Linked DNA regions of Homo sapiens: regions 1, 2, 3 and 5 are each linked to region 4. Evidence: fine-mapped expression QTL. A gene starts in region 4. Each other region holds a variant in brackets. All regions are shown on one strand. Distances are between the middles of the regions.

Region 1 (6,482 bases), 120 kb before region 4:
AGAAAGGAAACGGGGCAGTCAGCTTTGTTAGAGAGGGTGTCTGGGGAAGTCCTCAGGGTGGAGGAAGCTGTGCAGGACAGGGCTCATCAGGTAGAATGAAAGAGGGATGCACTTTTTTCACTGAACACCTTTCAGACATCTCACCAACTCTGGCCTCACTGGGCTGTGCCTTTCCTCCTGAGCCCTGAGCCCTGATTCCTGGCAGGGAGGGAGAAAGAGAGGAAGGGTGAAGCTGGGATGTGTGCTGTCCAGGTTTCTTCCATCTCTAGAATCTTGACAGCGAGGGACCCTAATGTGTTACCACAGAGGAGACCATGGGAAAAAGCTGTTTCTCAGGGGTGCCTGGCTTATGAAGTGAGGGAAATTCAGACCGAGTTGGACTCCTGAACTACAGGGAACCTGTTCCATGTCAGCAACCAGCTCCTCTAGCTCAGTGTTTCTCTCTGTGGCTAATTCTTTTGTATGGTTTCTGAGCCTATGCTAGAGTCCTCCTCACGATGCATGATGGTCAGACCTGTGTGGGGAGACCTAATGATGGGGTGGGGGTGGTCTTGAGTGTCACACAGAGTGTCCAGGGAACAGGCTTTGTGACTTTCTCTACCCCAGCCCCACAACAAGATCTGGATAGTGGGCTGGGTCAGATAAAGTCAGAATCCATGGGGAAGGGTATGTGTCCTGGCAGTGCCGAGGTTCGTGCCTCCAGGTTAGCTCTGAGTCTCTGCAAATACATTTATGTTGTGCATGTGCTGTTTGCTGGACGGTACTTCTTGAACCTGTCTGCAGATAATGTCATGAGAGGTCTGCATGGAAGTGTATGAGGGCTATGTGATTAGGGTGGGTGTGTTTTACACAGCGGGTTTTTTTTTCACCAAACACTTTTCAAAAAATTGTGGTTGAGTGTGTATATAGAAACACATACATACTTGTATTTGTTAGATGTGAATATATATTCATATAAATTTGACATGTAGATACATATGTCTATAAATATACACACATATATATGTGTGTATGTATATGTGTATATGTATATATATGTATGTGTGTGTGTGTATATATATATATGTGTGTATATATATAATGTGCCATTTTAACCACTTAACTTAAGGAGAGAGATAGAGGGAGAGAGAAGAGAGTTTCTACTAATACCAAATCTGGGTTAAATAAGGGTGGTCTTATTTCCTGGGGTTGGGCTTTTGCTACATGTGTCCTGTTGGAAGTGAGCTAGAGAGGTTACATGCTTAACCAATTTAGAGATTTTCTATATGAAAATCATCTGTGAGCACATTGATAAGTTTTATCCTCTTCTACGTGAAAAGCTTGATGAAGGATTTTAAGGATTTCTCGTTGGCTGAAGGCTGGCAAACGGAGTTTGCCATCCTCTGACTACAGCCATTCTGAGGACTGGAAAGGATACCCTGAGAAGTGGCCTATTTTATTTCTGCAGGAAGGTACTGAGGTTTAATTTATCTTATGGAGTCTTCCTAGATTAGAAGGCTTTGAGGTGTGTTGATGCCTTGCCAGTGACTTAGCTGCCTGATCAGTGAACCTATTTCTTTTGGCTACTTCATCTGTTCCCTTTTTGATGTTCTCTATAATGTATCACTGCTATTTCTCATGAAAGAAAACTGACGATAATAACCTGTTAATTTTTTGGTGATATTTTATAGGAAGTCCATTAGTGGTAAGAAAATGCCTTTTATTTTAAATGGCAGCATGAGCATGAAGAACTCAAAAAGCATACTTGGAATCAGTGTAAATGTTAGCTACCTTTCCCTTGCTTAATTTAAGTGCTCTTGTATTAACTGTTTGTTTAGCTGATTGAGCACCTGCACCTGAAGAGAGATATTATTTAGAGTGACTACTGCTTATCCTACCTTACGTATTTCTTGCTTTACCAGCTGATTGTTAGCTAAGAGCTCCCTCTAGAGGAAAGTAATTTTGCCACATTAAGTGGGGGTGTAAACCGTTTTTTCCTAGGGTTAATTTGGAGGCTTTTCTGATTAGTAGAGCTATTGTGACAGTGGTTTGGAAGCAGATGTAAAAAATAGGTCCTCCTAACTGCAAATAAGAGGCTGAGAAAAATATTGGATTAGAATTTTTCCTGAGACACCCCTTATGGTTGTGCTATGGGAAGAGGGGAGGCCTGGATAAGAAAGGAGAAAAGAGAGAGACTAGATCTAGTGTTTAGAAGGAGGTCTACTTTCCTCCCTATAATTTCCAGAATGACCTGTGTCTCCTGTGCTGTAATGGCAGTTTGAGCTGCTGGAGCCAGGGGTTTGAGCCCCAGGACCCATCAGTCCTGCTGGACCACTGTGAGACTGGTTCTGAACCCAGTGACCTCCATCTCTGGGAGCAGTTGCATCTCCAGTGGTCTCCACCACAGGCTGGACAGGGTCAAGGTGGCTTCCTCTTGCTCTTTGGACACTTCTTCCTCAAATGCCCTGGCTTGCCACACCGAGAGCAACTAGTGGATACACCTCTGGGATCCTGGACTTTGCAACTCTGCAAAGCAGCTACTAGAGGCTTTGTCCTTCTCTTGAGCTTTCTCTCTTTCTTCTGGGCCTTCTCCTAGTCCCTATTATAAAAGACTGAAGTGGCTACCCTCAGAAGGTTTTCCAAGGTGCTATCTGCTACTATAGCTTGCCTTTTATAGGTTCCTTCTAATATTGGGAGCTTTATGTATAATAAACTTATCTTTTGGAATGGGCTGTCACTTGACTGAATCAGGAGATAAAAAGGTGTGTGCTAATAGTGCCCCTCTCAACCTATCCATAAAGGCTGCAGGATTCTCATCTGGCTTTGAGTCTATCCTAGACAGTTTAGAGGAATTAAGAGGTCTGGCCTTAGTTTTTCTTTTTCATTCATCTACAGGGCTATTGGGGTTTCAATCAGGGTTGTCAAGAGGTACTGCTTCACTTACTATTTGGAATGGTGTTTCTGCTATTTCTTCACTTTCTGTATCTCCTTCCTTCCCTTTTGGTGTATTATAGGAGATATGTTGCTCATCTCCAAAATTCTCTGCTGCTTGCAGAGCTGCCTGTTTTTCAGCTGCAGTTAGGGTTTGGATTAGGAGCAGTATAACATCCTTCCATGTGAGGTGAAACACCTGACTTAAATTCTGGAAAGCTTCTATATACCTGTCAGGATTGTCTGAAAATTGGCCTAAGTCTTACTTTATTTGCCTAAGGTCCTGTAATGAGAAGGGAACTTGGAGGGACCCCAAATTATGGAGATTCTCAGATGGTTCCCTTGGAAGTTGCTTTTCTAATTCTAGGA[T/G]ATTATTCTTTATAAGCCTGCCTGATATGGCTGTTAAAAAATCTGGGTTGCTGTTACAATGCTTGTAAAGGTTTAGTAAAAATGCCCTGTCATTTTGCAAAATAGAATGAGTTGCTTTTCTCTTGAAAGTCCTGAGGTTAAAAGAGTTCTAGTGCCTCAGAGTGCGCTCCAGAGGGGTGCAAGCTGAAGATGCTCTGTTAGCCATTGAGAAAAAGAAGTGAGAATAAAAGTGTCCTTATAGTCCTCCTTATTTCATTGAGACCCAGAGTGGAGTGGAAGACAGTGGGAGCGTCCCCCCAACTGTTTTCTCTCCTTGGTTCCTGAGTCCCGGCACTATGTTAAATGTGCTGCCCATGGTTGTAGGTGTGGCCCTGTAAGCCATGGAACTAGATAAATGAAGTGATGGGATTAGCCACACTTTACCCATGCAACATTAGCTTATCTGCCTGTGATCTGCCTGGCTTCCTGAAAAATGGATCTCTCGAGAAACTGTAACAGTTGCCTTTGAGCAAGCTTTCTTTAACAGAGGGAATGTGCCAGTTGCCAGATACGTGCTAAAGCATTTACCCTCAGAAAAGTGGTCCTGGTTAACTCTGTTCTTAAAGTATCCTTACTAATTAAATACTGTTCTAATTGGAGATAGAATAGGTACTTTAAATGAATGTAGGGACCTAATGGCAGTTTTTCCTGCTGATGCAGCAGTATCAGAACTAAAATTTGGCTATGGAAGACATTTTACTCCTAATTGTTGAAAGCAGAGCTTTCCCATTCACAGAAAGGGCTTTTCTATCAGTGCAAAAAGAGAGAATTGGAAAAGTGCAGTGTTATGGCAAAGGACCAACAATGTGCCTTATGAGGAGGATTTCTATTTCTACTAGATGACATTGTTGGCTTAGAAATACCACGTGCTTACCAAAGGAAGGAGAGAGAGAGAGAGAGAGAGACTGAGACACCTATTGGGTTAGTTATTATAGCATTTACCGATCTTTCCTAACAGAACTGTTTCCCTGAACTGTAAAAATTTCCACATATTGCATACACAGAAAGAATAGGAGACATAGAGACCATGGATAGAAAGGAAGAACAAATTTGCAACAGGATAGCAAATTAGGAGACCCATTACCAACATCTGGATGGGCTGCCGGAGGCTGTGTTCAGTCCAGAAGCCTTTGAATAACATCAGGGTGTGTCCTGGCCAGAAATTCTCAGCTGTTCCAGGACATCCCCCAGCCTCATGTGATGGTGAGGTTCTCCATGAAAGGAAACTAGTTGGAAGAGAACCTTGAAATTAAAGGACAGATTTGAGGTTTGCTCCATACTCACCATTCTGATGTTTCTATCTTCTCTTCTGATCACAATCCCAGATGAGAACTCCCAAATAAAATGACTCTGTTTGGGAATCTATCCATGGTTCTTTGTCACACACTGAGAAAGAATTCAGGACATGGAAACACATGAGGAGTGTGTTTAGGATTGAAAAATTTAACAGACAAAAAAGAAGAGAGAGAGAAAAAGCTTTCTCATACTGAGAAAGCAGTCACCCAAGAGAGGGTCTCCAATTTGGGGTGGAATGCAATTGATTTTGTACAGAGACTTAAGGAGGCAGTGATTGATTTACATAGGGTCCAGGGGATTGTTTTGACCAGGTGTTCCATTTACATAGCCTGAAAAAAGACTGGCCCTCCCATCCTATTCTTTTATTATGCAAATGTGGCTTCTACCTGGTGGTCACCATGAAATTAGGAGATATACCTAATGTTAAATGATGAGTTAATGGTTGCAGCACACCAACATGGCACATGTATACATATGTAACTAACTTGCACGTTGTGCACATGTACCCTAAAACTTAAAGTATAATAAAAAAATAAAACCCCATGGTAAATTTCTATTTTTTTGTGTTACCTTGGCATCTATTTTTAATCTTCCTTGAACACACCAAATTTTCTCTTGAAAAAGCTTAAGTTCTCTCTCTCTCTCTTTGCTTTGAGATGTAAATGTGCTATGTATTTTCTCTAAAACTAGGTAAAGCCTTCCTCAGATAAATGTTAACCTTTACCATTTACAAGACAGCAATTTGAATCCAACTATCCTTTAAAATGGTGGGTTTTACTGATCTCATGCCTAAACTCCTAAAATCAAAATTCTAGAATCTTTTTGTCTCTCTCTATCTTTATGTGAACATATATATGTTTCATCACATATATGTATATGTCACACGTTTATATACTGTTTACACATAGTATCAAATTAATGTAAAAATAAATGAGTACTCACAAATTAAGTGAATAAGCCCAAATGCTTTTCTATATATGTGATTTTAGTAACCTTTGGTGAATATAGATAGCTTTAAAATTGTTGGTAAAATAAAGTAGAAATGTCTTCATAATTTAATTTATACACTTTTGCCTATGTCTGTTGGCAGGCAGGTTTATATTGTCTTTACTAGATGTTTTAAGGTCATCAAAGAGTTGCTTGTGTATATATACATTTTCTTAATTTGTCTGTGAGCTTATGTCTTTATATTTGAAGCTTTAAATTCTGAGTTCTAGATGAGTGACCATAGTAAGAACTGGGGACAAAACCCATCCCATCCTCCAGCTGTGCCTTTTGGCCATGCTGGGAGAGGTGGGATTATCCAGGCATTTTCTTCATAGCTCTGTTCTTTGTCTTGGGCTTTGCATCTGGTACATAGTTAGAATGGTTTACTCCCTAGTTTTTTTTCTACTGAAAATAAGGCTGTATAAGTCTGTTTTTACATTGCTACAGACAAATACATGAACCTGAATAATTTATAAAGAAAAGAGTTTGAATGGTCTCATGATTCAGCAGGTTGTAGAGTAAGCATGATTCTGGCATCTGCTCAGATTTTGAGGAGGCCTCAGAAAACTTACAATCATGGAGAAAGCCAGTGGTGGAGGAAGACATCTTATATAATGGGAGCTGGAGGAAGAGAGCAAGGGTTGCACACTGGTAAAGAACCAGATAAAACTCACTGTTGCTATAACAGCACCAAGGAGAATGGTGTTAACATATGAGAAACCACCTCCATGATCCAATCACATCCAACCAGGCTCCACCTCCAACTTTGGAGATTACAATTTGACTTGAGATTTGGGTGGGGGTAAAGGTCCAAAAAAAATTATTCTCTCCATCTTCCCTCCCAAATCTCATGTCTTTCTCACATTTAATAATATAAGAAT
Region 2 (6,482 bases), 90 kb before region 4:
TGAGCAGCTGAGATTACAGGCACGTGCCACCACACCTGACTGATTTTTGTATTTTTACTAGAGACTGGGTTTCGCCATGTTGCTGGTCTTGAACTCCTGGCCTTGAGTAATCTGCCCGCCTCAGTCTCCCAAAGTGCTGCCATTACAGATGTGAGCCACTGCCTCTGGCCATCTCTTTTGTATCTTTGAAAGATTTTTTTTCAGTTGACTGAAATCTTTTTAAATCATGTGCTTAGTCTGTCTGGTTTTTTTCTTAAAAATTCTTTTTCTGCTTATTTCTCTTTCCATCCTTCCTCTTGCTATTCTTGATGCCACATGAGGGAACCTAAAGAATTTCTGACAGCCTGGAACCCCTTAAGGAAAACAGAAAAGATGCCACAGACTTCCCTATTTAGGAGAAACCACTGTTTTTCCTCATGGAACCCCAAGAGTTGTAAGTAAATGGATTCCTCTCAGGTCTAAAACTCTGCTCTCTTTTCCATTTTCCCTGACCTCTTTGGCTTTTGGGGGCATCAGAGATTACTTTGCACTGTAAAAATGCTTGACCTTATATGTGTGATGGCTGCTGGGTCACTGGTAAGAGCTTTGGTTTTGGAGGTGACTAACAGCGCTCGCAATAAATGATTATTACTTCAGAATGCTACTCATTTCTTTGCAAGTTTAGATAAGAAATACACAGTTTAAATAATTAGAAAAATGCCCTTATAGCAAAGTACACTGTGGAAGTGTTGCATAGTATGGTTCCATTGGCATTTTCCTCTTCTCAGGGACCTGGGATTCAGTGAAATCCTTGATTTATAAAGGTCTGGATGCTGTCCCTTGCAACTGGGTCTTCTTTTTATGTATTTAAATTATTAGGATCTAAAAGTTGCAAGACTTCGTTGGTCCTCTTCCTTAATGGGCTCTGTCCTGAGCTCAGTGGTCCAGTTGGAAAACAGAGACCAAATTAAAAGCTGCCTATCTAAATAAAATTGGTCTCCTTATAAAATCCTATGGTAAATTTCTGTCATTTTTGTGTTACCTTGGCATCTATTTTTAATCTTCCTTGAACACACACAAATTCCTTCTTGTAAAAGCTTTAGTTCTCTTTCTCTCTGTGCTTTGAGATGTAAATTTGCTACCAATTTTCTCTAAAACTCAATAAAGTCTGGCTTAATTAAATGTTAACCTCTTCCATTTACAAAGGCACAAATTTAATCCAACTGTCTTTTTTAAATACTGAATTTGATCGGTCCTATGCTGAAATCAAAACTCTAAACTCTTTCTGCCTCCCTCTATCTTTATGTGCACATGTGTATGTTATATGCTGTATCACATATATGTCTATGTCCATACATATGATTATATGTTGTTTACATACATGGTATCAAATTAATGTAAAAATAAGTACTCATAAATTAAGTAAATAATCCCAAATGCTTTTCAATACATGTGATTTTAGTAATCTTTGGTAAATAAAGATAGTTTAAAAATTATTGGTAAAATGAAGTAGAAATGTCTTCAGATTTAATTTAGACATTTGTGCCTGGGTCTGTTGGCAGACATTTTTATATTGTATTTACTAGATGTTTTAGGGTCATCATATGGTTGCTTCTGTATATATACATTTTCTTAATTTTTCTGTGACCTTATATCTTTAGATTTGAGCCTTTAGATTCTGAGTTCTAGATGAGCGACCATAGCAAGAACTGGGGACAAAACTCATCCCATCCCACAGCTGTGCCTTTTGGCCATGCTGGAAGAGATTAGATTCTCCAGGTATAATCTTCATAGCTTTGCTGTTTATCTTGGGCTTTACACCTGGTAACTAGTTAGAATTGCTTACTTCCTGTTTTTTCTCTCCTGAAAATAATGCTGTATTTGTTTGTTCTCACATTGCTACTGAGAAATACCTGAGACTGGGTAATTTATAAAGAAAAGAGGTTGAATTGGCTCATGGTTTGGCATGACTCTCACATTTGCTCAGCTTTTGAGGAGGCCTCGGGAAACTTACAATCATTGTGGAAGGCCAAGGCAGAACAAGGCATCTCACAGGTGAGAGCAGGAGGAAGACAGCAAGGGTTACACACTCTTAACCAGATCACCTGAGAACTCACTGTCACTAGGAAAGCACCAAGAGGAATGGTGTTAAACCATGAGAAACCATCCCCATAATCCAATCACCTTCAACCAGGCTCCACCTACAACTTTGGAGATTACAACTTGACATGAGATTTGAGTGGGAATATAAATCCAAAACATATCATTCTTTCCCTGGTTTCTCTCAAATCTCATGTCTTTCTTTTCATACGTGTCCGTGTGAAGAGACCACCAAACAGGCTTTGTGTGAGCAACATGGTTGTTTATTTCACCTGGGTGCAGGTGGGCTGAGTCCGAAAAGAGAGTCAGCAAAGGGAGATAGGGATGGGGCCATTTTATAGGATTTGGGAAGGTAATGGAAAATTACAGTCAAAGGGGGTTGTTCTCTGGTGGGCAGGGGCGGGGGTCACAAGGTGCTCAGTGGGGGAGCTTCTGAGCCAGGAGAAGGAAATTCACAGGGTTAATCACTCAGTTAAGGTGGGGCAGGAACAAATCACAATGGTGGAATGTCATCAGTTAAGGCGGGGCAGGGCCTTTTCACTTCTTTTGTGATTCTTCAGTAACTTCAGGCCATCTGGGCGTATACGTGCAAGTCACAGGGGATGCGATGGCTTGGCTTGGGCTCAGAGGACTGACATTCCTGCCTTCTTATATTAATAAGAAAAATAAAACAAAATAGTGTTGAAGTGTTGGGGTGGCGAAAATTTTTGGGGGGTGGTATGGAGAGAGAATGGGCGATGTTTCTCAGGGCTGCTTCAAGCGGGATTAGGGGCGGGTGGGAACCTAGAGTGGGAGAGATTAAGCTGAAAGGAGATCTTGTGGTAAGGGGTGATATTGTGGGGTTGTTAGAAGAAACATTTGTCATATAGTATGATTGGTGATGGCCTGGATACAGTTTTGTGTGAATTGAAAAACTAAATGGAATAAGAAGGAGAAAAACAGGTATAAAAGGTCTAAGAATTGGGAGGACCTAGGACATCTGATTAGAGAGTGCCTAAGGAGATTCAGCATAGTCCTGCCAGCAAAGATTATTTATTTACTTCAAGAGTTAAGAGTGGCAGTTTGGGGATAGCACGAGGAGATATCAGCTGTGATGGCTTGGAGAAACAGTGTAAACTGGCAGTGTGAACAAGAGCAGGGCATGT[G/A]TGAGTAGTTGAGAATGGAGAATAGGAATATGACTAGACAGAAAATAGTAGGGATGACAAGTTTTCTTGGGGGCACAGTCTAAGTTGGTCCAGTGTCTGGAATGAGACTGGGGCCTAATAAAAAGGAGCATCTATACAGGAGCTTAAATGGGCTGTACCTTGTAGCATTCTGAGGACAGGCCTGAATTCTGAGAAGTGAAAGTGGTAAAAGTATTGTCCAGTCCTTTTTAAGTTGGTGGCTGAGCTTGGTGAGGTGTGTTTTTAAAAGACCTTTAGTCCGTTCTACTTTTCTTGAAGACGGAGGACCGTAAGGGATATAAAGGTTTCACTGAATACTAAGAGCCTGAAAAACTAATTGGCTGATTTGACTAATAAAGGCTGGTCTGCTATCAGACTGTATAGAGGTGGGAAGGCTAAACTGAGGAATTATGTCTGACAGAAGGGAAGAAATGACTGTGGTGGCCTTCTCAGACCCTGTAGGAAAGGCCTTTACTTATTCAGTGAAAGTGTCTATTTAGACTAAGAGGTATTTTAGTTTCCTGACTCGGGCATGTTGAGTAAAGCTAATTTGCCAGTCCTGGGTGGGGGCAAATTCTCGAGCTTGATGTGTAGGGAAGGGAGGGGGCCTGAATAATCCCTGAGGAGTAGTAGAATAGCAGATGGAACACTGAGAAGTTATTTTCTTGAGGATAGATTTCCACGATGGAAAGGAAATGAGAGGTTCTGAGAGGCAGGCTAGTGGCTTGTACTATAGCATAGCCTGCATTTGCTGGTATGTGGCGATTAGGCCTGGTGGAACTGCCATCAATAAATCAAGCGTGATCAGGGTGAGGAATAGGAAAGAAGGAAATACAGGGAAATGGGGTGAATAGCAGGTGGATCAGAGAGATACAGTCATGGGGGTCAGGTGTGGTATCAGGAATAATGTGGGAGGCCAGATTGAAGTCCGGGCCAGGAACAGTGGTAATTGTGGGACTTAACAAAGAGTGAGTACAGCTGAAGGAGCCGGGGAGCAGAAAGTGTATGCGTCAGGTATGAGGAAGAAAATAGATTTTGGAAGTTGAGAAATGTAGAGAGTGAGTTGAGCATAGTTTGTGATTTTCAGGGCCTCTAAAAGTATTAAAGCAGCGGCAGCCGCTGCACACAGACATGAGGGCTAGGCTAAAACAGTAAGGTCAAGTTGTTTGGACAGAAAGGCTACAGGGTGCGGTCCTGGCTCTTGTGTAAGAATTCTGACCACACTAACCATGCCTAGGAAGGAAAGGAGTTGTTGTTTTGTAAGGGATTGAGGTTTGGGAGATTAATCAGACATGATCAGCAGGGAAAGCACGTGTGTTTTTGTGAGAATTATACCGAGATAGGTAACAGATGAGGATGAAATTTGGGCTTGACTGAGGTAATGGGGGCTGTCTGTGAAGCCTTGCGGCAGGACAGCCCAGGTAATTTGCTGAGCCTGATGGGTGTCAGGGTCAGTCTAAGTGAAAGCAAAGAGAGGCGGGGACGAGGGGTGCAGGGGAACAGTGAAAAAAGCATCTTTACGATCAAGCACGGAATAGTGAGTTGTGGAGGAAGGTATTGAGGACAAAAGAGTGTTCGGGTTGGGCACCACAAGGGGGATAGGCAAAACAATTTGGTTGATAAGGCACAGATCCTGAACTAACTTGTAAGTCTTGTCTGGTTTTAGGACAGGTAAAATGGGGGAATTGTAAGGAGAGTTTATAGGCTTTAAAAGGCCATGCTGTAGCAGGCGAGTGATAACAGGCTTTAATCCTTTTAAAGCGTGCTGTGGGATGGGATATTGGCGTTGAGTGGGGTAAGGGTGATTAGGTTTTAATGAGATGGTAAGGGGTGCATGATCAGTCGCCAAGGAGGGAGTAGAGGTGTCTTATACTTGTGGGTTAAGGTGGGGGGATACAAGAGGAGGACGCAAAGGAGGCTTTGGATTGGGAAGAAGGGCGGCAATGAGATATAGCTGTAGTCCAGGAATAGTCAGGGAAGCAGATAATTTACTTAAAGTGCCTCAGCCTAATAAGGGAACTGGGCAGGTGGGGATAACTAAAAAGGAGTGCTTAAAAGAGTAGTGTCTAAGTTGGCGCCAGAGTTGGGGAGTTTTAAGAGGTTTAGAAGCCTGGCTGTCAATACCCACAACAGTTATGGAGGCAAGGGAAACAGGCCCTTGAAAAGAAGGTAATGTGGAGTGGGTAGCCTCCGTATTGATTAAGAAGGGGATGGACTTACCCTCCACCGTGAGAGTTACCTAAAGCTCGGCGTCCGTGATGGTCTACGGGGCTTCTGAGGTGATCAGGCAGCGTCAGTCTTCAGCCGGTAAGCCAAGAAGGAGTCAGTCAGAGAGCCTTGGGCCCAGAGTTCCTTGGGCTCTGGGAGTGGCTGCCAGGTGAGTTGAACAGTCCGATTTTCAGTGGGGTCCCACACAGATGGGACGCGGCTTAGGAGGAATCCCAGGCTGCGGGCATTCCTTGGCCCAGTGGCCAGATTTCCGGCACGTGTAGCAAGCGCCTGGGGGAGGAGGTTCTGGAGGAACGCCTGGTTGCTATGGTTCAGGCGTTTGGAAGTTCTTGTGTGCTGGAGATGTGGCTGGGGTTTGTCTCACAGTGGAGGCAAGGAATTGCAACTTTTTTCTGTTATTGCACACCTTGAAGGTGAGGTTAATTAAGTCCTGTTGTGGGGTTTGAGGGCCAGATTCCAATTTCTGGAGTTTTATTTAATGTCGGGAGCAGATTGGGTAATAAAATGTATATTGAGAATAAGATGGCCTTTTGACCTTTTAGGGTCTAGGGCTATAAAGCGTCTCAGGGTTGCTGTCAAACGAGCCATGAACTGGGCTGGATTTTTATACTTGATGAAAAAGAGCCTAAACGCTATCTGATTTGGGATAAAGAAAAAGGAGCATTAACCTTGACTATGCCTTTAGCTCCAGCCACCTTTTTAAGAGTAAATTGCTAGGCAGGTGGGGAAGGGCTAGTCACGGAACGAAACTGTAAGCCGGACCAGGTGTGAGGAGGGGAGGCAATAAAAAGATTACAGGGTGGAGGAGCGGAGGCTGAGGAAGAATTGGGACCTAGCTTGGCCTGGCAAGGAGGGGAGAGGTCAGATGGGTCTGTAGAAAAGGAAGATTAGAAAGACTCAGCGACGCTTGGGGTTGGGACTGAGGGGACAGGCGGGAGATTTGGGACGAGTTGCACTGGGCACAGAGACTAGGAAGGGACTGATGTGTAAAAGAATGCCTGGACGTCAGGC
Region 3 (6,482 bases), 52 kb before region 4:
CAATCCTGCCTCTGTTTCCCTTGTTGCAAATGAGGGTGTTGATTGTGATCACACCACCTACTGCTGGGGTGCTGTGGGGAAATGAGGCATCCCAGATAAGCTGTGTTCCCTGGAACCTTAGATGGGTGGATCTGTGGGAAGCAATGAGGTCAGCCAGGTGCAGAGGCAGTGCTCAGCGGCAGTGCTCAGCCCACCCTGGCCCTTCGCATCTTGTTTGGAACATAGGGCTTTGCAACTGAAAGGTATGAGAAAGGTCTCAGGCTGCCTTCCTTATTATTGAAATGAGGACCTTAAAGCTCAGATGGGGAAGCAGAGATGGGATGAGGATAAGGAAGAGCTTCCATTGCTCTCACAGCTAAAGCAAGGAACGGCCGTTCCCCCAGGGCTGTGAGAGGACGTCCCTGCGGGTGTTCAAGCAGAAACAGGGAACAATGGGGGTGGGATTTCGACTCCCAAGTCCCTTCTGAATCCTTGGTTAAGGGAATCTGTGGCCAGGTCACCTGGAGTGTGACTCAAGAGTGTGATCACCTTCCCTAGCCCAGGACGTGGAGGGACAGACATGGTGGGTTCCTGGCTTACACACACCCTGGGATTCCTCTCCCCAGATTTTCTGACCTGTCATCGGGGGACCACCATTATGACACACGGAAACTTGGCTCAAGAACCCACTGATTGGACCACATCGAATACCGAGATGTGCGAGGTGGGGCAGGTGTGTCAGGAGACGCTGCTGCTCCTAGATGTAGGTACGTGGACTGAGGTAGAAGACGAACACCTGTCCCAAGTCCCTGGCAGCTCCCTCCACCCCACTGGATTCTTTCCCCTGAATTTCCTGCTCAGCTCCCTTCACATCTGCAATTTTCAATCCGACTCTTCTTCTCTCTGCATCTTGGGTTCCCCTTATGAAAACTGGGGGTGAAGCAGTGGGAATGACAGTGTCTGCCTTTCTGGGGAGGGGTGACCACGTATGCGGTAATCCCTGCCCAGGGTGGAGAACCGTGCCAACACCGAGGACTCTCAGTGGCTTCATACATTCTGGAAATGTTTATCCAGCATTTGTTTTAGGTGCCGCAGATCCAATCCCATCTGTATTCCTGCAGCTTTATATGCCTTGAGAAACAGGAAACAAACAAACAAAAAGCAGCAAAGTATGGGGAATGGAGATCCCAGCTCTGCAGAGAAATCTGGCAAGGAAAAGGAGATAGGAAAAGTGAGGGGAAGGCTGCAATTTTAAGCTCAGTGCTCAGGGGAGACTCATGGAGAAGGTGACCTTTGAGCGAGAACTGGGAGGAGGCAGAGCTTCGGGCAGGACCCAGGCCCCAGCCTCCGTCTTTGCCCCACACTAAACATGACCCAGCAGTTGTGATCAGGGCATTCACCCTCTGCCTGGGGGGTATTGTGAAGGGCAGGGAGTCCAGCTCTGGAGCCCCTGCTGCCCTGGGAGCTGCCCAGTCCCCAGCCCAGCTTTCCCTCTCACCCTCAGGACTCACATCAACCCTGGTGGGGACAAAAGGCTGCAGCACTGTTGGGGCTCAAAATTCCCAGAAGACCACCATCCACTCAGCCCCTCCTGGGGTGCTTGTGGCCTCCTATACCCACTTCTGCTCCTCGGACCTGTGCAATAGTGCCAGCAGCAGCAGCGTTCTGCTGAACTCCCTCCCTCCTCAAGGTATGGGATCCAGGGCCGTGGAGAAATGAGGCCCAGACACACAGAGACTCTGGCCCAAGGTGGCCAGCTGCTCTGAGCACAAAGTCATGTACCCCCACCTTCCCTCTGCTCCCCAGCTGCCCCTGTCCCAGGAGACCGGCAGTGTCCTACCTGTGTGCAGCCCCTTGGAACCTGTTCAAGTGGCTCCCCCCGAATGACCTGCCCCAGGGGCGCCACTCATTGTTATGATGGGTACATTCATCTCTCAGGAGGTGAGTGCTGCAAGCAGGGCCCCAAGGATGAAGGCACTGGTGGCCTGGACTCCTGGGTCTGAGGGAGGAGGGGCTGGGGGCCTGGACTCCTGGTCCGAGGGAGGAGGCGCTGGGGGCCTGGACTCCTGGTCCGAGGGAGGAGGGGCTGGGGGCCTGGACTCCTGGTCTGAGGGAGGAGGCGCTGGGGGCCTGGGCTCCTGGTCCCAGGGAGGAGGGGCTGGGTGCCTGGACTCCTGGTCTGAGGGAGGAGGGGCTGGGGGCCGGGGCTCCTGGGTCTGAGGAGCTGAGGCTCTGGACTCCTGGGTCTGAGGTAGGAGGGACTGGGGGCCTGGACTCCTGGGTCTGAGGGAGGAGGGGCTGGGGGCCTGGACCCCTGGGTCTGAGGAGCTGGAGCTGGGGGTCTGGGCTCCTCGGTCTGAGGGAGGAGGGTCTGGGGCCTGGACTCCTGGGTTTACAACTTGGCTGGGCTGTACTCTGTGTCCTTTCTGACTTGGTCTTCTCCCTCTAGGTGGGCTGTCCACCAAAATGAGCATTCAGGGCTGCGTGGCCCAACCTTCCAGCTTCTTGTTGAACCACACCAGACAAATCGGGATCTTCTCTGCGCGTGAGAAGCGTGATGTGCAGCCTCCTGCCTCTCAGCATGAGGGAGGTGGGGCTGAGGGCCTGGAGTCTCTCACTTGGGGGGTGGGGCTGGCACTGGCCCCAGCGCTGTGGTGGGGAGTGGTTTGCCCTTCCTGCTAACTCTATTACCCCCACGATTCTTCACCGCTGCTGACCACCCACACTCAACCTCCCTCTGACCTCATAACCTAATGGCCTTGGACACCAGATTCTTTCCCATTCTGTCCATGAATCATCTTCCCCACACACAATCATTCATATCTACTCACCTAACAGCAACACTGGGGAGAGCCTGGAGCATCCG[G/A]ACTTGCCCTATGGGAGAGGGGACGCTGGAGGAGTGGCTGCATGTATCTGATAATACAGACCCTGTCCTTTCTCCCAGTGCTGGGATTTCTCCATGTGAGGGGGCAGCAGGACACCCAGGGATCTAGCGTGGGGGAGGAGAGGAGCCTAATGAGAAAATGACCATCTAAAGCCTGCCCTTCATTGGTCTGGTTCACGTCTCCAAACCAGCTTGGATGGTAGCAGAGACTTCAGGGTGCTCCAGCCAAACGTATTTGGGCATCACCATGACCTGGGAGGGGAAGATGCACTGAGACGTATGAGGCTTCCAGCCTAGCAGCCAGGGCCCTAGCACAAACAGGAGGCTCGCCCCATCTGAGCAACTGCAGGAGAGGTTAGTACAGTCATGCATTGCTTAACGACAGGGACGTGTCGTTAGAAATGTGTCGTTAGGTGATTTTATGACCATAGGAACATTGTAGCGTGCACTTACACCAACCCAGATGGTACAGCCCAATACACACCCAGGATGGACGCTAGAGTCGACTGCTCCTAGGCTACAAGCCTGCAGTGCATGTTATGGTGTGAATACTGCAGGCAATCTTAACACCACGGCAAGTATTTGTGCATCTACACACATCTAAACATAGAAAAGGTACAGCATAAATACACTATTGTCATCTCAGCAGACCACCGTTCTATACGCAATTCGTCGCTGACCCAAACGTTGCTATGTAGCATCTGCGTATCGTGGGATAATTGACATGAGGGCTTGAGAGAACTCCAGAAAAAAATGGGTTAGCATTTTCCCAGAGCTGTTATCATTGGGTCTCTCTTACCACCATAGCCCAAAAAGGGTGAGGAGAAGAGCCACTGCTGGAATCTGCAGACAGAGAGAGAGAGAGAGAGAGAGACATAGACAGAAAGAGACAGAGAGAGCTGGAGAGAGAGCCGGAGACAGAAAGAGAGAGATATTCAGAGAGGGTTGCCTAACAAGAGCTCCCATCTCAGGCTGAAAAACGCGTCCAGCCCACAATGATACTGGGGAGGGAAGTGGGGAACTAAAATTCCAAACTGATGTCCTCACTCTGGTCTCCAGTTGAGGTTCCCCATTGACTGAACCCCCTAGAGGCCACAGAAGCAGGAGACTCCACTGGTCCAGCCCCCATAGATCTGCCATTCACACTACAGAACAGAGGAGAGGAGAGGGAAGAGGAGAAGAGAGCGAATCTGGAGAAGGAAACAGAACACGTCTAGTACCGTTCACTCCCTTGCCCCTCGGCATCCACCCTTTCCCTTTGTCCAAATGAAAATCAAAGTCCAGGACGGGCTCGGTGGCTCACGCCTATAATGCCAGCACTTTGGGAAGCCGAGGTGGGAGGATCACTTGAGCCCAGGAGTTTGAGACCAGCCTGGGCAACATAGTGAAACCGCTTCTCTACAAAAAAATACAAAAAATAAGCCGGGTGTGGTGGTGTGCGCCCCCTCCCTCTACTGGTCCCAGCTACTCAGAAGGCTGAGTCCAGGAGGTCAAGGCTGCAGTGAGCCAAGACTGCACCACTGCACTCCAGCCTGGGCGACAGAGCAAGACCCTGTCTCAAGGGGGAAAAATAAATCAGAGTCCTCCGTACAGATGACACACAATTCCAGTCCTTCCCTCTGTCACAGTAACAGTGTGTGATGGTGACAGTGATGTCCTCCTCCCATTGTGCTGGGCACCAGTTCTTCACCCACAATGAGAGAAAGATGGGGAGGAGATGGCTTCCAATACAGCTGCTGAGGTCCTGGGGGCGGGGCTGCTGGTGCTTAGAGCTGCTTTCTTCCAGTACATTCCACATTGTCTTCCCACTTCCAAAACCTCCTTTGGATGTTATTTGTTACCTGCAGTGTAACCCAAATCTTGATTCTTATGGAGAGTGAGTCTTGGATGGCCTTGTCTTTAGTGGGTTTCTGTAGTTTTCCATGGAACAGGGCCCTGGCCAAGGAAATGTTACCGCCATGAGTTGCCTGCCTTCGAAAATAGCCTCCTTGTCCCAGCCACCCGACCTCCCTCTGTAATCAGATGCCATTCCCCCGACTGCAGAGTGACGTCTCCTTTGCCTGCTGTTTTGGCAGCACAAGGGGCACAGGATGGCTGGAGGGCTGTCATGGCTTCCTGCAGATCAGAACTAGGAAGAGATTCCTCATCCACAGCAGCCCAGGGCCACGGGGACAAAGAGCAAGCATTCTCTCAGTGGGCTGGCAGGTGCAGTCACGGGAGGGAGCCGCGCTTATTCTTCCTGTCTTTCCTGGATCTTTGCATCTGGCCCTGGGGCGCGTGACCCGATAGCCTGGTTGCTGGTTTATAAGATGTGTGGCCCCTCCTGTGGGTGGTGGGGTACGGTCTCCCTCCCGGTGCCCTGATAAGCCACACATGAGCCATTGCGCCAATCTGAGAAGCAGCTGTGTCTGTATAGAGGGGCACCTGAGACGGTCAGTGGGTTCCATGGGTGTGAGTTAATTACCCCCCATTCTTTGCGTTAACACGTGTCCCCAGTGGAAGCAACCCTGCATGGGTTCCAGAGCCACAGGAAAGGCGCTGTTCACAGAAGCACTGAGCAGGGTCCAGGGAAGGCCAACTGGAACCCCCAGTGTGTGCGTATCCGTGTGAGGACAAAGCCCAGTCCCCTCCAGGATGGGACGTGTCCTGTGTGGCCAGCCTATCTGCAGTGGCCGGGTAGTCCTCCTGTAAAATGACGCCTTCCAGGGGCTTAGCCCCGGGCTCTGCCTACACTGGGCAGGGCTGGATACAGTGTGCAGCCAGGCCAGTGCTGGGAGACTCAGTCCACTTGTGGTAAGGTATGTCGCCGTCCTCCCTATCCATGTGGCCATCTGCACCTGGACCCCCTGAACAAGCTCTGAGGGACAGAGTCTGCCTGACACCATCCACCAAACACCAAGAACCTCATCCCCACAGCACAGGTTCTGGGCTTAAGGGTGGGGACGGCATAGCTCACACTTTGTGCCCATCCCCAGAGGAACATCCATGTGTCCTCCCTGTCTTAAGTTTACTCTTTTATTCTCTTCAAGTCCTTGACCATGTGGCCCGCTCTGGGTTCATGCAATGGACCCAAGTCCATCCCTCCTTGCAGAACCCCTGAGGTTCTGCCCATCTGAAGGATTTCCCTTCATCACTCCTCAGGACCACCTGAAGTGGGCACTAAGGCAGCCGCCGTCCACTTCTGCTGGGCGCCAGCTCACCGTGAGGACCCATCCATAAGCCTGGTCTGCACTTTCCTCCTCTGTATGAGGTCACAGGGCTTCCCAGGAGCTCACAGATGTGGTAGAGGGAGGGGCAGAAGGACAGGTGCCATGGGAGCCTGAGTCACTTGCTGGCCTCAGACCTGCTTGAGCCTGACCCCATGCTCAGCTGTCCCGTGGATGCTGGAGGCTGCTGTGCATGCCCCAGGTTATGGTTTGGTAGCTCAGAGAGCACCCGGCCCTGAACTTGATTGCACTTGGCCCAGGGATGAGCCAAGAGCTGCTTTCCGAATGGTCAGAGTTACCTGCAGGAGGAGGCGCGGAATTTCTCTAGAACCTCCAGCTCTGCACTGTTAATCTTTTGGAGCTTGTGAAAATCTCCATAAAATAATGCACTAGATTTGAAACATAGACTCTCT
Region 4 (6,482 bases):
TGATTCTCTCGCTGCAGCATCCAGAGTAGCTGGGATTACAGGGGCGCACCACCACGCCCAGCTAATTTTTTCATTTTTAGTGGAGACAGGGTTTCACCATGTTGGCCAGGCTGGTCTCGAACTCCTGATCTCAGGTGATCCACCACCTCGGCCTCCCAAAGTGCTGGGATTACAGGCCTGAGCCACCGTGCCTGGCCCATTAGAAAGTTTTAAACAGGAGTAATGTGGTGTGGCTTGCAATTAAGAGATCGCTCTGGTGCCAGGTGGGAAATAGCCACATGGGCAAGGGCAGGGCGTACTGCAATAATCCAGTGACCAATGGTGGTGTCACAAGTGCTTATATAAAAAGATGCCTTCACTGTATATTAGCCATTGAGCTTTTTTCTTTTTTACAAACGTTCCATGGATTCATAAACTATTTGCCAACCATTGCTCTAGACTAACCTCCTCATTTTCTTTTTTTTCTTTTTTTTCTTTTTTTTTGAGACCAAGACCAAGTTTTGCTCTTGTTGCCCAGGCTGGAGTGCAATGGTGCAGTCTCAGCTCACTGCAACCTCCGCCTCCCAGGTTCAAGTGATTCTCCTGCCTCAGCCTCCCAAGTAGCTGGGATTACAGGCGCGTGCCACCAGGCCTGGCTAATTTTTGTATTTTTAGCAGAGACAGGGTTTCACCGTGTTGGTGAAGGTCAGGCTGGTCTCAAACTCCTGACCTCAGGTGAACCACCCACCTTGGCCTCCCAAAGTGCTGGGATTATGGGCTTGAGCCACTGCACCCAGCCTAACCTCTTCATTTTCTAGATGAGGACACTGAAGCTTGGAGAGGAACAGAAATTGGCTCAGGCTAAGGAAGATCTGTCAATCTCTCTTGCACCAAAAAGGCAAAGCCACCTTTCTCAAGGGGCTGTGTATTGGGGTGTTCTTGCACTGCTATAAAGAAATACCTGAGACTAGAAGTAATTTATAAGAAAAGAGGTTTGATTGGCTCAAGGTTCTGCAGCTGTACAGGAAGCGTGGTGCCAGCATCTCCTTCTGGGGAGGCCTCAGAGAGCTTTTACTTATGGCAAAAGGATGCAGGCCAGAGAAGGGGAGCGAGAGAGAGTAAGAAGGGGAGGTGCCACACACTTAAACAACCAGATCTGGCAAGGACTCACTCATCATTGCAAGGACAGCACCAAGTCATGAAGGATCTGCCCCCATAACCCAAACACCTTCCACCAGGTCGCATCTCCAACACTGGGAATTACATTTCAACATGAGATTTGGGCGGGGGACAAATATCCAAACTATGTCACGGAGCAAGAGGAGGTCCCTGGAGCTGTTGAAGCAGAAATGGGGTGAAGAATAGAGGTGGAGGGTGCTTAGGCTTCCAAGGTCTCTTCTAGGTGTGAGATGGAGGGATTCTGCGACCAAGTCACCTGGAGAGTGACTCAACAAGGTGACTGCTTTCCCAAGCACGAGCCCTCGGGGGACAGACGGGGGCTGAAAACTGGCACACATTCTTCCTGGATCCTTTGACATGTGATCATTCAAAGATAACAGTTCAAAGATAACAAAGGGATTGAAGCTTTACCAATCCCTTTCTTATTGTGGCATTTTCTCTATTAAAAATAAATACTCATTTATACTATAACTTACAGAATCAGTACCAATTCTGAAAGTATACAAAGCGTTGCCTTACTTTAAGGAAGGAGACCACTACTACTCCTGCTGCCCTCCTCCCCCGACCTTGCCTAGTTCACAAGACAGGAGGAAAGAGAGAAAGCAAAAAGTTGGAAAGAAACAGAAGTAAGATAAATAGCCAGTCAACCTTGGCACCACCACCCAGCCCTAGGAGTTAAAAAAAGTAATAATAATAACAGCAACCCCTGACCTAAACTACTTGTGTTATCTGTAAGTTCCAGACATTATATGAAAAAGCATTGCAAAACTTTCTGTTCTGTTACCTGATGCATGTAGCCCCCAGTCACGTTTCCCACGCTTGCTCGATTTATCACGACCCTTTCATGTGGACCCCTCGAAGTTGTAAGCCTTTAAAAAGGCCAAGAATTGGCCAGGCGTGGTGGCTCATGCCTGTAATCCCAGCACTTTGGGGGGCGGGCGGATCACGAGGTCAGGAGATCGAGACCATCCTGGCTAACACAGTGAAACCCCATCTCTACTAAAAATACAAAAAAATTAGCCGGGTGTGGTGGTGGGTGACTGTAGTCCCAGCTACTCGGGAGGCGGAGGCAGGAGAATGGCATGAAGTCGGGAGGCAGAGCTTGCAGTGAGCCGAGATTGCACCACTGCACTCCAGCCTGGGCAACAGAGGGAGACTCCAAAAAAAAAAAAAAAGGCCAAGAATTTATTTTTCAGGGAGCTCGGCTCTTAAGACGCAAGTCTGCTGAGGCTCCCGGCCAAATAAACCTCTTCCTTCTTTAATCCAGTATCTGAGGAGTTTTGTCTGCAGCTCATCCTGCTACAACTTCATGTCACACCTGGAAAGCTTACATAGGCCAGGGGTGGTGGCTCACGTCTGTAATCCCAGTACTCTGGGAGGCCGAGGTGGGCAGATCACCTGAGGTTAGGAGTTCAAGACCAGCCTGGTCAACACGGCGAAACCCCGTCTCTACTAAAAATACAAAAATTAGCCAGGTGTGGTGGCAGGTGCCTGTAATCCTAGCTGCTCAGGGGAGACTGAGGCATGAGAATCGCTTGAACCTGGGAGAGGGAGGTTGCAGTGAGCTGAGATCACGTCACTGCACTCCAGCCTGGGGGATAGAGAGAGGCTCTGTCTCCAAAAAAAAAATACAAAAAATTAGCCAGGCATGGTAGCTTATGCCTGTAATCCCAGCTACCTGGGAGGCTGTGGTAGGAGAATCACTTGAACCCAGGAGGAGGAGGTTGCAGGGAGCCAAGATTGTGCCATTGCACTCCAGCCTGGGCAAAAAGAGCAAAAGTCTGTCAAAAAGGGAAGGGAAGGGGAGGGGAAGGGAGGGGAGGGGAGGGAAGGGAAGGTTACATAGATGTGAAAGTGAACTGCCAGCCATGAGCAACAAATCCGAGTGACATGTCTTCTTCATGGTCCTGACACGGACGCGTGGGTTCGATCTGACAGCAGCCTGTGCCATCATAGCTACTGCTCATGCATGCATTCGGGGTGCCCAAAGTGATGCTGAGGGGGGCATTCCTAGATTCAACCCTCCAGGAGACCATGAGGAGGCTGGTGCGATAGCGCAATCAGATGAAGACGCCTGGGCTGCACAGGGGCCACTGCAAGTGAAGACTCAAGAGGCCAAGCTGACTCCCAGAGGCTAGGGCCACTAAGGTGGGTGCCGAGGCAGGGGCCAGGCTGGGAACATGAGAGGCCATTTGGGTAGGGAGATAAGTTCCGTGAGTGAGGGCCAAGGGTCTGACCTCCTAGTGTGGCTGGAGAAGCAGAGACAACAGAGTGCAAAAAGAGAAATGGGCCAGGCGAGGCCATCTGGCAACGCACTGCCCACCCTCCATTGCGTGCCTCTGGCTGCAAAAACAGGCAGGATCTTCCGGCCGGTTTGCCCGCCACTCACCTTCCGAGCATGCGCACCCTCCGAGATTGCCAGGAATTGACTTCTCTGTGGCCAATGAGGTGCCGCGTTCCTCCAGGCTCATCCAATGAACTTATCCGATGCTTTTGCATCCACCAATGGGGTTTCGAGTGCTGTGTGGCCAGGCTGGCCCGGCCTTGCGTCGTAAGAGAATGCCAAGCCCGGGGAGAAGGCGTTCCGGGCCTCAACTTTGGCGTCGTGAGATTCTTGTGAGGCGTCTGCCTGGAAGCCGGCAGCAATTTTGCTTCTTTAAAGAGAAAAAGAAGGCTAGGGACTCAGATTCCTGGATTCTGAGGAAAGAGAAGGCTGGGGACCCAGATCCTGGCTCTGAGGGGAACGAGGGTTGGGGGCCTGGGCTCCCGGGCCTGAGAGGGAGGGGACCAGAATGGTGTGTCCCGCAGGAAAAGGTGGTTGGAACCCAGACTCCTCGATCCCTACATAGGACGGGGCTGGGCTCTCAGAATCCCGGGTTCTGATGAGGCTGGGGCTGGGGCTGGGGGCCGAGATTCTGGGTCCCTGAGAGAATGTAAGGGACCCCTGAGACTGAGGGAGAAGCGGCCTTCAGGGCCACACTCCTGATCCTGAAGTTGGAGGGCACTGGGTGGCCGGGCCTGAGAATTAAAACCATGAAAAACTGGGGCGTGATAAACCTGTGAACTCGCTCCAGCTCACAAGCCGGTTAGGGACAGAACGACTTTAGAAGTCGTGGTCATATACACCATAAACCCCACTGTGAGGCCGGGCATCAGGGCTCACTCCTGGAATCCCAGCACTATGGGGGGACGAGGCGGGCAGATCACCTGAGATCAGGAGTTCGAGACCAGCCTGACCAACATGGTGAAACGTCATCTCTACTAAAAATACAAAAAATTCACTGGGTGTGGTGGCGGGCACCTGTAATCCCGGCTACTCGGGAGGCTGAGGCAGGAGAATTGCTTGAACCTGATAGGCAGAGGCAGTGAGCCGAGATTGCGCCACTGCACTCCAGCCTGGGCGACAGTGCAAGACTCCGTCTCAAAAAAAAAAAAAATGCAGATTAAAACACCCCACCCTGAAGTCAGTACTTGCCAGGACCTAGATTTGATCTCATGCACTCTGGCTGAAAAGTTAATTGCCTTCTCTCCATCAAATTCACAGATCCAGACCAGCTCCTCCCAGACCTCTCCAGAAGAAGCCATGGGAACCCCTCGTATCCAGCATTTGCTGATCCTCCTGGTCCTAGGAGCCTCCCTCCTGACCTGTGCGTATGGGGGACATAGGGGAGAGCCGTGTGTCACAGAAGGTGGACTGATGATGAAAAGGGAGCCGCCTTGGCCCATGGAGAAGTGCTTATCCTTTTCTTGTTTTCTCCTCAGCGGGCCTAGAGCTGTATTGTCAAAAGGGTCTGTCCATGACTGTGGAAGCAGATCCAGCCAATATGTTTAACTGGACCACAGAGGAAGTGGAGACTTGTGACAAAGGGGCACTTTGCCAGGAAACCATACTAATAATTAAAGCAGGTGAAATGAGATGGGGCATTTGGGCTGGGTAGGAGGGAGGTTGATTATCTCCATGCCAATGCTTGTTCCCTTCGTCCAGGCCAATTGTGACGGCCACCATCCATTTCCCCTCCTTCCTGTCTCATAACAGGGACTGAGACAGCCATTTTGGCCACGAAGGGCTGCATCCCGGAAGGGGAGGAGGCCATAACAATTGTCCAGCACTCTTCACCTCCCGGCCTGATCGTGACCTCCTACAGTAACTACTGTGAGGATTCCTTCTGTAATGACAAAGACAGCCTGTCTCAGTTTTGGGAGTTCAGTGAGACCACAGGTACCCTGGAAGTGGGGGAGATAGGTACTAAGAGAAACTCCATAAAGAGCTTGTGTATGGCCTCCCTTTGCATTCTGACTTGGCTTAGCCTAAGTGGTCCATACCCCAAAGTACCTCACAGTTCAAGTAATTTTATGTTTCTGAATTGTTCATTGGGATCTAAACACTGCTCAGAGCAGCGAGATACCAGTGAAGCCTGGAGTGTAAACTGGGTTTTGTGTTTATTAAGCAATAAGACAGGCTGGGTGAGGTGGATCGCCTGAGGTCAGGGGTTTGGGACCAGCTTGGCCAACATGGTGAAAACCTGTCTCTACTAAAAATACAAAAATTAGCTTAGCCTGGTGGCGCACACCTGTAATCCCAGATACTCGGGAAGCTGAGGCAGGAGAATTGCTTGAACCCAGGAGGCAGAGGTTGCAGTGAGCCAATATCACACCACTGCACTTCAGCCTGGGACAGAGAGCAAGACTCCATCAAAAAAAAAAAAAAAAAAAGCAATAAGACATCAGTGTAGGTTTCCGAACAGGGTGGTATTATCAGTCTAACAAGTATTGGTTTCCCACTGCTGCACGAGAACGGCCCAGTTCCCCAATTTACAAGGCCTGTAGTAACTTGGCCCTTCCTGTCTTTTCAGCTTCATTTCCCTCTCTTCCCTCTCTCATTTACTGTGTGCTAACTGGGGCTAATACTCAAAATGCTTAACAATGTAGATGGCACTGGCCAATCAAAATGGATTCTGGCCATAAAAAACAAAAACAAAAACAAAAAAAACAGATCAAAGAAACAGCTGGGCCTACAAGCTGAATATGAGTCGTGCAACTTCTCACAATTCCCTGAATCCACCAAGCTGGCTCACACCACCTGACCTTTGTCCTTGCTGTTTCCTTTACTACCCTCCCCACCCCATTTTCACATAGCTAACCCCTGTTCATCCTCCATGTCAATTCAGGTATCAGCTCTTTGAAAATATTTGCCAAATTCTTTTAGGTAGTTGGGTATTCCTCCATTCCTTTGTCATTATACCTTGAACACAGCAGCTACTGAATTGATTACTTACATGTCTTTCTCCTAGGCAGAGATGCCAGGTGACAGGAACTATGTCCTT
Region 5 (6,482 bases), 44 kb before region 4:
ATACTGATCTGTAATGAATGGGGATTCATGCCAAGTGCTGATGATGTGCATGACATTAGTGCTGACTGCTGTAAGTACTGGAAGCCGTCATGATAATGAACAGTGACTCTCATCACAGTTCATGGGGTCCTTTGTGAAACATGAGGGGGCATTAAGCAGAAACAGCCAGCCCAGCCCTCTCCACCACCCTTGAGGTGGTGTATCTATGCCTGGTTTACAGTGTGGAAACTGAGGCTCAGAGACGGGGACTGGATTGTGCACGGTCACCCAGTCACGAAGGCCAGGAAATGATGGATGGGATGCAGGCTGTGCGCTCAGCCACCTCCCCGTGGAGCAGTTCAGGGGCACTGGGCATCGGGTCGCCCTGAAGATGCTGCTCTTGTCTGTCTGCCTCTCTCTTTCCACCGCACTGGGTCTCTGTTTCTGGCTCTGTCTCCTCCTCACTGTGTGTCTTTGGCTCACTTTGTGTCTTTTCATCTCTGTGTCTCCCTGTCTCTCTCTGTCTTTGTCTCCCTCTCACTTGGTCCCTTCCTTCCTTTCTTCCTTCCTTCCTTCCTTCCTTCTTTCTTTCTTTCTTTCTTTCCTTTTTCTTTCTTATTATAACACCATTGATTTTTAATCAAGGATCCACAAGCTTGGGTCCTCTCTTGTCTCACCCTAGTCCTGCCCTGTGTCTCTCTACGGCACACCTTTTACTTCTCTGGCTCTGACTCTCTGAGTTCTCCCTCTGTCCATGCCTCTCCCCTCCCTCCATCTCTCTGTGTTAGTGTCTCTGTACCCTTTCCTCTCTGCCTCTCTCTGTATCTCCCCTCTCCACCCCCATATATCTCTGACTCTGTCTCTCTCTGGGTCTTTATCATTTTCTCTTTCTCTCTCCATCCCTGCCCCCATTCTCTCTCTGCCTTTCTCGATCTCTCTGTTTCTCACCCTCCTTCTGCCTTCCCCTAAGCCAGGGACTTCATGGCTCTGATGGCTGTCCAGCGGTGTTGCCCATTTTTATTGAAGTATCCTTCTGTCGACCCACTTGGAAAGACTTCCAAGATACACTGCACAGTGAGAAAAACAAGAAGCAGAACAGTGCACAGTGTGCCACCTCTGGCATTACAAAGGAGGAAATGTAAAATGAATTTATAAATGGCCAATAAGCAAATAAAATTTGGTCAACATCACTTATCATTAGGAAAATGGAAATCAAAACCACAGTGAGATACCACCTTACATCTGTTCTGATGGCAGTTCTGAAAAAAAAAAAAAAAAAAAAAACAAAGTGTTGGCGAGGAGAAATTGGAATGCTTGTGCAGTGTTTGTGGGTATATAATATGGCACAACCACTGTGGTCATTTCTCAAAAAATTAATCATAGACTTACCACACGATGCAGCAATTCTACTTCTGGTGTATTCTGAAAAGAACTGAGAGCAGGGGCCCCAGCAGGTATCTGCATGTCTTTGTTCATAGCAGCATTATTCACACTAGCCAAAGGTGTAAACAAGCCAAATGATATGGCTTTCCTCTGTCCGAACACAAATCTCACGTTCAGCTGTAATTCCCAAAGGTCGAAAATAGCCTCCTTGTCCCAGCCACCTGACCTCCCTCTGTAATGAGATGCCGTTCCCCCGACTGCAAGTGACTCAGGCTCCCATGGCACCTGTCCTCCTGCCCCTCCCTCTACCACATCTGTGAGCTCCTGGGAAGCCCTGTGACCTCATACAGAGGAGGAAAGTGCAGACCAGGCTTATGGATGGGTCCTCACGGTGAGCTGGCGCCCAGCAGAAGTGGACGGCGGCTGCCTTAGTGCCCACTTCAGGTGGTCCTGAGGAGTGATGAAGGGAAATCCTTCAGATGGGCAGAACCTCAGGGGTTCTGCAAGGAGGGATGGACTTGGGTCCATTGCATGAACCCAGAGCGGGCCACATGGTCAAGGACTTGAAGAGAATAAAAGAGTAAACTTAAGACAGGGAGGACACATGGATGTTCCTCTGGGGATGGGCACAAAGTGTGAGCTATGCCGTCCCCACCCTTAAGCCCAGAACCTGTGCTGTGGGGATGAGGTTCTTGGTGTTTGGTGGATGGTGTCAGGCAGACTCTGTCCCTCAGAGCTTGTTCAGGGGGTCCAGGTGCAGATGGCCACATGGATAGGGAGGACGGCGACGTACCTTACCACAAGTGGACTGAGTCTCCCAGCACTGGCCTGGCTGCACACTGTACCCAGCCCTGCCCAGTGTAGGCAGAGCCCGGGGCTAAGCCCCTGGAAGGCGTCATTTTACAGGAGGACTACCCGGCCACTGCAGATAGGCTGGCCACACAGGACACGTCCCATCCTGGAGGGGACTGGGCTTTGTCCTCACACGGATACGCACACACTGGGGGTTCCAGTTGGCCTTCCCTGGACCCTGCTCAGTGCTTCTGTGAACAGCGCCTTTCCTGTGGCTCTGGAACCCATGCAGGGTTGCTTCCACTGGGGACACGTGTTAACGCAAAGAATGGGGGGTAATTAACTCACACCCATGGAACCCACTGACCGTCTCAGGTGCCCCTCTATACAGACACAGCTGCTTCTCAGATTGGCGCAATGGCTCATGTGTGGCTTATCAGGGCACCGGGAGGGAGACCGTACCCCACCACCCACAGGAGGGGCCACACATCTTATAAACCAGCAACCAGGCTATCGGGTCACGCGCCCCAGGGCCAGATGCAAAGATCCAGGAAAGACAGGAAGAATAAGCGCGGCTCCCTCCCGTGACTGCACCTGCCAGCCCACTGAGAGAATGCTTGCTCTTTGTCCCCGTGGCCCTGGGCTGCTGTGGATGAGGAATCTCTTCCTAGTTCTGATCTGCAGGAAGCCATGACAGCCCTCCAGCCATCCTGTGCCCCTTGTGCTGCCAAAACAGCAGGCAAAGGAGACGTCACTCTGCAGTCGGGGGAATGGCATCTGATTACAGAGGGAGGTCGGGTGGCTGGGACAAGGAGGCTATTTTCGAAGGCAGGCAACTCATGGCGGTAACATTTCCTTGGCCAGGGCCCTGTTCCATGGAAAACTATAGAAACCCACTAAAGACAAGGCCATCCAAGACTCACTCTCCATAAGAATCAAGATTTGGGTTACACTGCAGGTAACAAATAACATCCAAAGGAGGTTTTGGAGGTGGGAGGACAATGTGGAATGTACTGGAAGAAAGCAGCTCTGAGCACCAGCAGCCCCGCCCCCAGGACCTCAGCAGCTGTATTGGAAGCCATCTCTTCCCCATCTT[C/T]CTCTCATTGTGGGCGAAGAACTGGTGCACAGCACAATGGGAGGAGGACATCACTGTCACCATCACACACTGTTACTGTGACAGAGGGAAGGACTGGAATTGTGTGTCGTCTGTACGGAGGACTCTGATTATTTTTTCCCCCTTGAGACAGGGTCTCGCTCTGTCCCCCAGGCTGGAGTGCAGTGGTGCAGTCTTGGCTCACTGCAGCCTTGACCTTCTGGACTCAGCCTTCTCAGTAGCTGGGACCACAGGCGTGCACCACCACACCCGGCTAATTTTTTGTTGTCTTAGTGGAGACTGGATTTCACGGTATTAGCCAGGATGGTCTCAATCTCCTGACCTCATGATCTGCCCGCCTCGGCCTCCCAAAGTACTGGGACTACAGACAGGCACGCACCACCACACCCGGCTAATTTTTTGTATTTTTTGTAGAGAAGCAGTTTCACTATGTTGCCCAGGCTGGTCTCAAACTCCTGGGCTCGAGTGATCCTCCCACCTCAGCTTCCCAAAGTGCTGGCATTACAGGCGTGAGCCACCGAGCCTGTCCTGGACTCTGATTTTCATCTGGACAAAGGGAAAGGGTGGATGCCGAGGGGCAAGGGAGTGAACGGTGCTAGACGTGTTCTGTTTCCTTCTCCAGATTCACTCTCTTCTCCTCTTCCCTTTCCTCTCCTCTGTTCTCTACTGTGAATGGCAGATCTATGGGGGCTGGACCAGTGGAGTCTCCTGCTTCTGTGGCCTCTAGGGGGTTCAGTCAATGGGGAACCTCAACTGGAGACCAGAGTGAGGACATCAGTTTGGAATTTTAGTTCCCCACTTCCCTCCCCAGTATCATTGCGGGCTGGACGCGTTTTTCAGCCTGAGATGGGAGCTCTTGTTAGGCAACCCTCTCTGAATATCTCTCTCTTTCTGTCTCCGGCTCTCTCTCCAGCTCTCTCTGTCTCTTTCTGTCTATGTCTCTCTCTCTCTCTCTCTCTCTGTCTGCAGATTCCAGCAGTGGCTCTTCTCCTCACCCTTTTTGGGCTATGGTGGTAAGAGATACCCAATGGTAACAGCTCTGGGAAAATGCTAACCCATTTTTTTCTGGAGTTCTCTTTAGCCCTTATGTCAATTATCCCACAATAGGCAGATGCTACATAGCAACGTTTGGGTCAGTGACGAATTGCGTATAGAACGGTGGTCTCCTGAGATGACAATAGTGTATTTATGCTGTACCTTTTCTATGTTTAGATGTGTATAGATGCACAAATACTTGCCGTGGTGTTACGATGCCTGCAGTATTCACACCATAACATGCACTGCAGGCTTGTAGCCTAGGAGCAGTCAACTCTACCATCCATCCTGGGTGTGTATTGGGCTGTACCATCTGGGTTGGTGTAAGTGCACTCTACAATGTTCCTTTCGTGATAAAATCACCTAACGACACATTTCTAACGACACGTCCCTGTCGTAAAGCAATGCATGACTATACTAACCTCTCCTGCAGTCGCTCAGATGGGGCCAGCCCCCTGTTTGTGCTAGGGCCCTGGCTGCTAGGCTGGAAGCCTCATACATCTCAGTGCATCTTCCCCTCCCAGGTCATGGTGATGCCCAAATACGTTTGGCTGGAGCACCCTGAAGTCTCTGCTACCATCCAAGCTGGTTTGGAGACATGAACCAGACCAATGAAGGGCAGGCTTTGGATGGCCATTTTCTCATTAGGTTCCTCTCCTCCACCATGCTAGATCCCTGGGCGTCCTGCTGTCCCCTTACATGGAGAAATCCCAGCACTGGGAGAAAGCACAGGGTCTTTATTATCAGACACATGCAGCCACTCCTCCAGTGTCCCCTCTCCCACAGGGCAAGTCCGGCTGCTCCAGGCTCTCCCCAGTGTTGCTATTAGGTGAGTAGATATGAATGATTATGTGTGGGGAAGATGATTCATGGACAGGATGGGGAAATAATCTGGTGTCCAAGGCCATTAGGTTACAAGCACAAGGGACGGTTGAGTGTGGTGGTGAGCAGCGGTGAAGAATCGTGGGGGAAATGGAGTTAGCAGGAAGGGCAAACCGCTCCCCACCACAGCGCTGGGGCCAGTGCCAGCCCCACCCCCCAAGTGAGACACTCCAGGCCCCCAGCCCCACCTCCCTCATGCTGAGAGGCAGGAGGCGGCTCATCACCCTTCTCACACACAGAGAAGATCCCAATTTGTCTGGTGTGGTTCAACAAGGAGCTGGAAGGTTGGGCCACACAGCCCTGAATGCTCATTCTGGTGGTCAGCCCACCTAGAGGGAGAAGACCAAGTCAGAAAGGACACAGAGTACAGCCCAGCCAAATTCATAAACCCAGGAGTCCAGGCCCCAGACCCTCCTCCCTCAAACGCAGGAGCTCAGACCCCCAGCCCCTCCTACCTCAGACCCAGGAGTCCAGGCCCCCAGCCCCTTCTCCCTCAGTCCCAGGAGCCCAGGACACCAGCGCCTTCATCCTTGGGGCCCTGCTTGCAGCACTCACCTCCTGAGAGATGAATGTACCCATCATAACAATGAGTGGCGCCCCTGGGGCAGGTCATTCGGGGGGAGCCACTTGAACAGGTTCCAAGGGGCTGCACACAGGTAGGACACTGCCGGTCTCCTGGGACAGGGGCAGCTGGGGAGCAGAGGGAAGGTGGGGGTACATGACTTTGTGCTCAGAGCAGCTGCCCACCTTGGGCCAGAGTCTCTGTGTGTCTGGGCCTCATTTCTCCACGGCCCTGGATCCCATACCTTGAGGAGGGAGGGAGTTCAGCAGAACGCTGCTGCTGCTGGCACTATTGCACAGGTCCGAGGAGCAGAAGTGGGTATAGGAGGCCACAAGCACCCCAGGAGGGGCTGAGTGGATGGTGGTCTTCTGGGAATTTTGAGCCCCAACAGCGCTGCAGCTTTAGGTCGCCACCAGGGTTGATGTGAGTCCTGAGGGTGAGAGGGAAAGCTGGGCTGGGGACTGGGCAGCTCCCAGGGCAGCAGGGGCTCCAGAGCTGGACTCCCTGCCCTTCACAATACCCCCCAGGCAGAGGGTGAATGCCCTGATCACAACTGCTGGGTCATGTTTAGTGTGGGGCAAAGACGGAGGCTGGGGCCTGGGTCCTGCCCGAAGCTCTGCCTCCTCCCAGTTCTCGCTCAAACGTCACCTTCTCCATGAGTCTCCCCTGAGCACTGAGCTTAAAATTGCAGCCTTCCCCTCACTTTTCCTATCTCCTTTTCCTTGCCAGATTTCT

The links. PIP is the estimated chance that this variant, and not a neighbour inherited with it, causes the effect. A credible set is the group of variants that fine-mapping cannot tell apart.
Region 1: its variant is the best candidate, but not a certain one, in a credible set for the expression of TEX101 in whole blood (INTERVAL, PIP 0.68).
Region 2: its variant is the best candidate, but not a certain one, in a credible set for the expression of TEX101 in whole blood (INTERVAL, PIP 0.60).
Region 3: its variant is the best candidate, but not a certain one, in a credible set for the expression of TEX101 in whole blood (TOPMed, PIP 0.82).
Region 5: its variant is the best candidate, but not a certain one, in a credible set for the expression of TEX101 in whole blood (INTERVAL, PIP 0.58).

The regions. Positions count from the first base shown.
Region 1 is chr19:43,287,187-43,293,668 of GRCh38, forward strand. No RefSeq gene overlaps it. Among named protein-coding and RNA genes, the nearest start is that of PSG9, 21 kb to the left of the region's middle. The variant T/G (reference allele first, on the strand shown) is at 3,280.
Region 2 is chr19:43,321,229-43,327,710 of GRCh38, forward strand. No RefSeq gene overlaps it. Among named protein-coding and RNA genes, the nearest start is that of LINC03078, 7.0 kb to the right of the region's middle. The variant G/A (reference allele first, on the strand shown) is at 3,225.
Region 3 is chr19:43,359,660-43,366,141 of GRCh38, forward strand. CD177 (CD177 molecule) reads left to right here. Exons shown (of 9, transcript NM_020406.4): 6 at 606-746; 7 at 1,484-1,669; 8 at 1,786-1,920; 9 at 2,429-3,513. The coding sequence ends at 2,661. Among named protein-coding and RNA genes, the nearest start is that of CD177, 9.2 kb to the left of the region's middle. RefSeq lists an enhancer at 4,546-5,047. The variant G/A (reference allele first, on the strand shown) is at 2,846.
Region 4 is chr19:43,411,179-43,417,660 of GRCh38, forward strand. TEX101 (testis expressed 101) reads left to right here and starts at 3,712. Exons shown (of 6, transcript NM_001130011.3): 1 at 3,712-3,860; 2 at 4,703-4,805; 3 at 4,921-5,064; 4 at 5,195-5,377. The coding sequence starts at 4,742. RefSeq lists a silencer at 1,913-2,099.
Region 5 is chr19:43,367,461-43,373,942 of GRCh38, forward strand. It overlaps the pseudogene CD177P1. Among named protein-coding and RNA genes, the nearest start is that of CD177, 17 kb to the left of the region's middle. The variant C/T (reference allele first, on the strand shown) is at 3,251.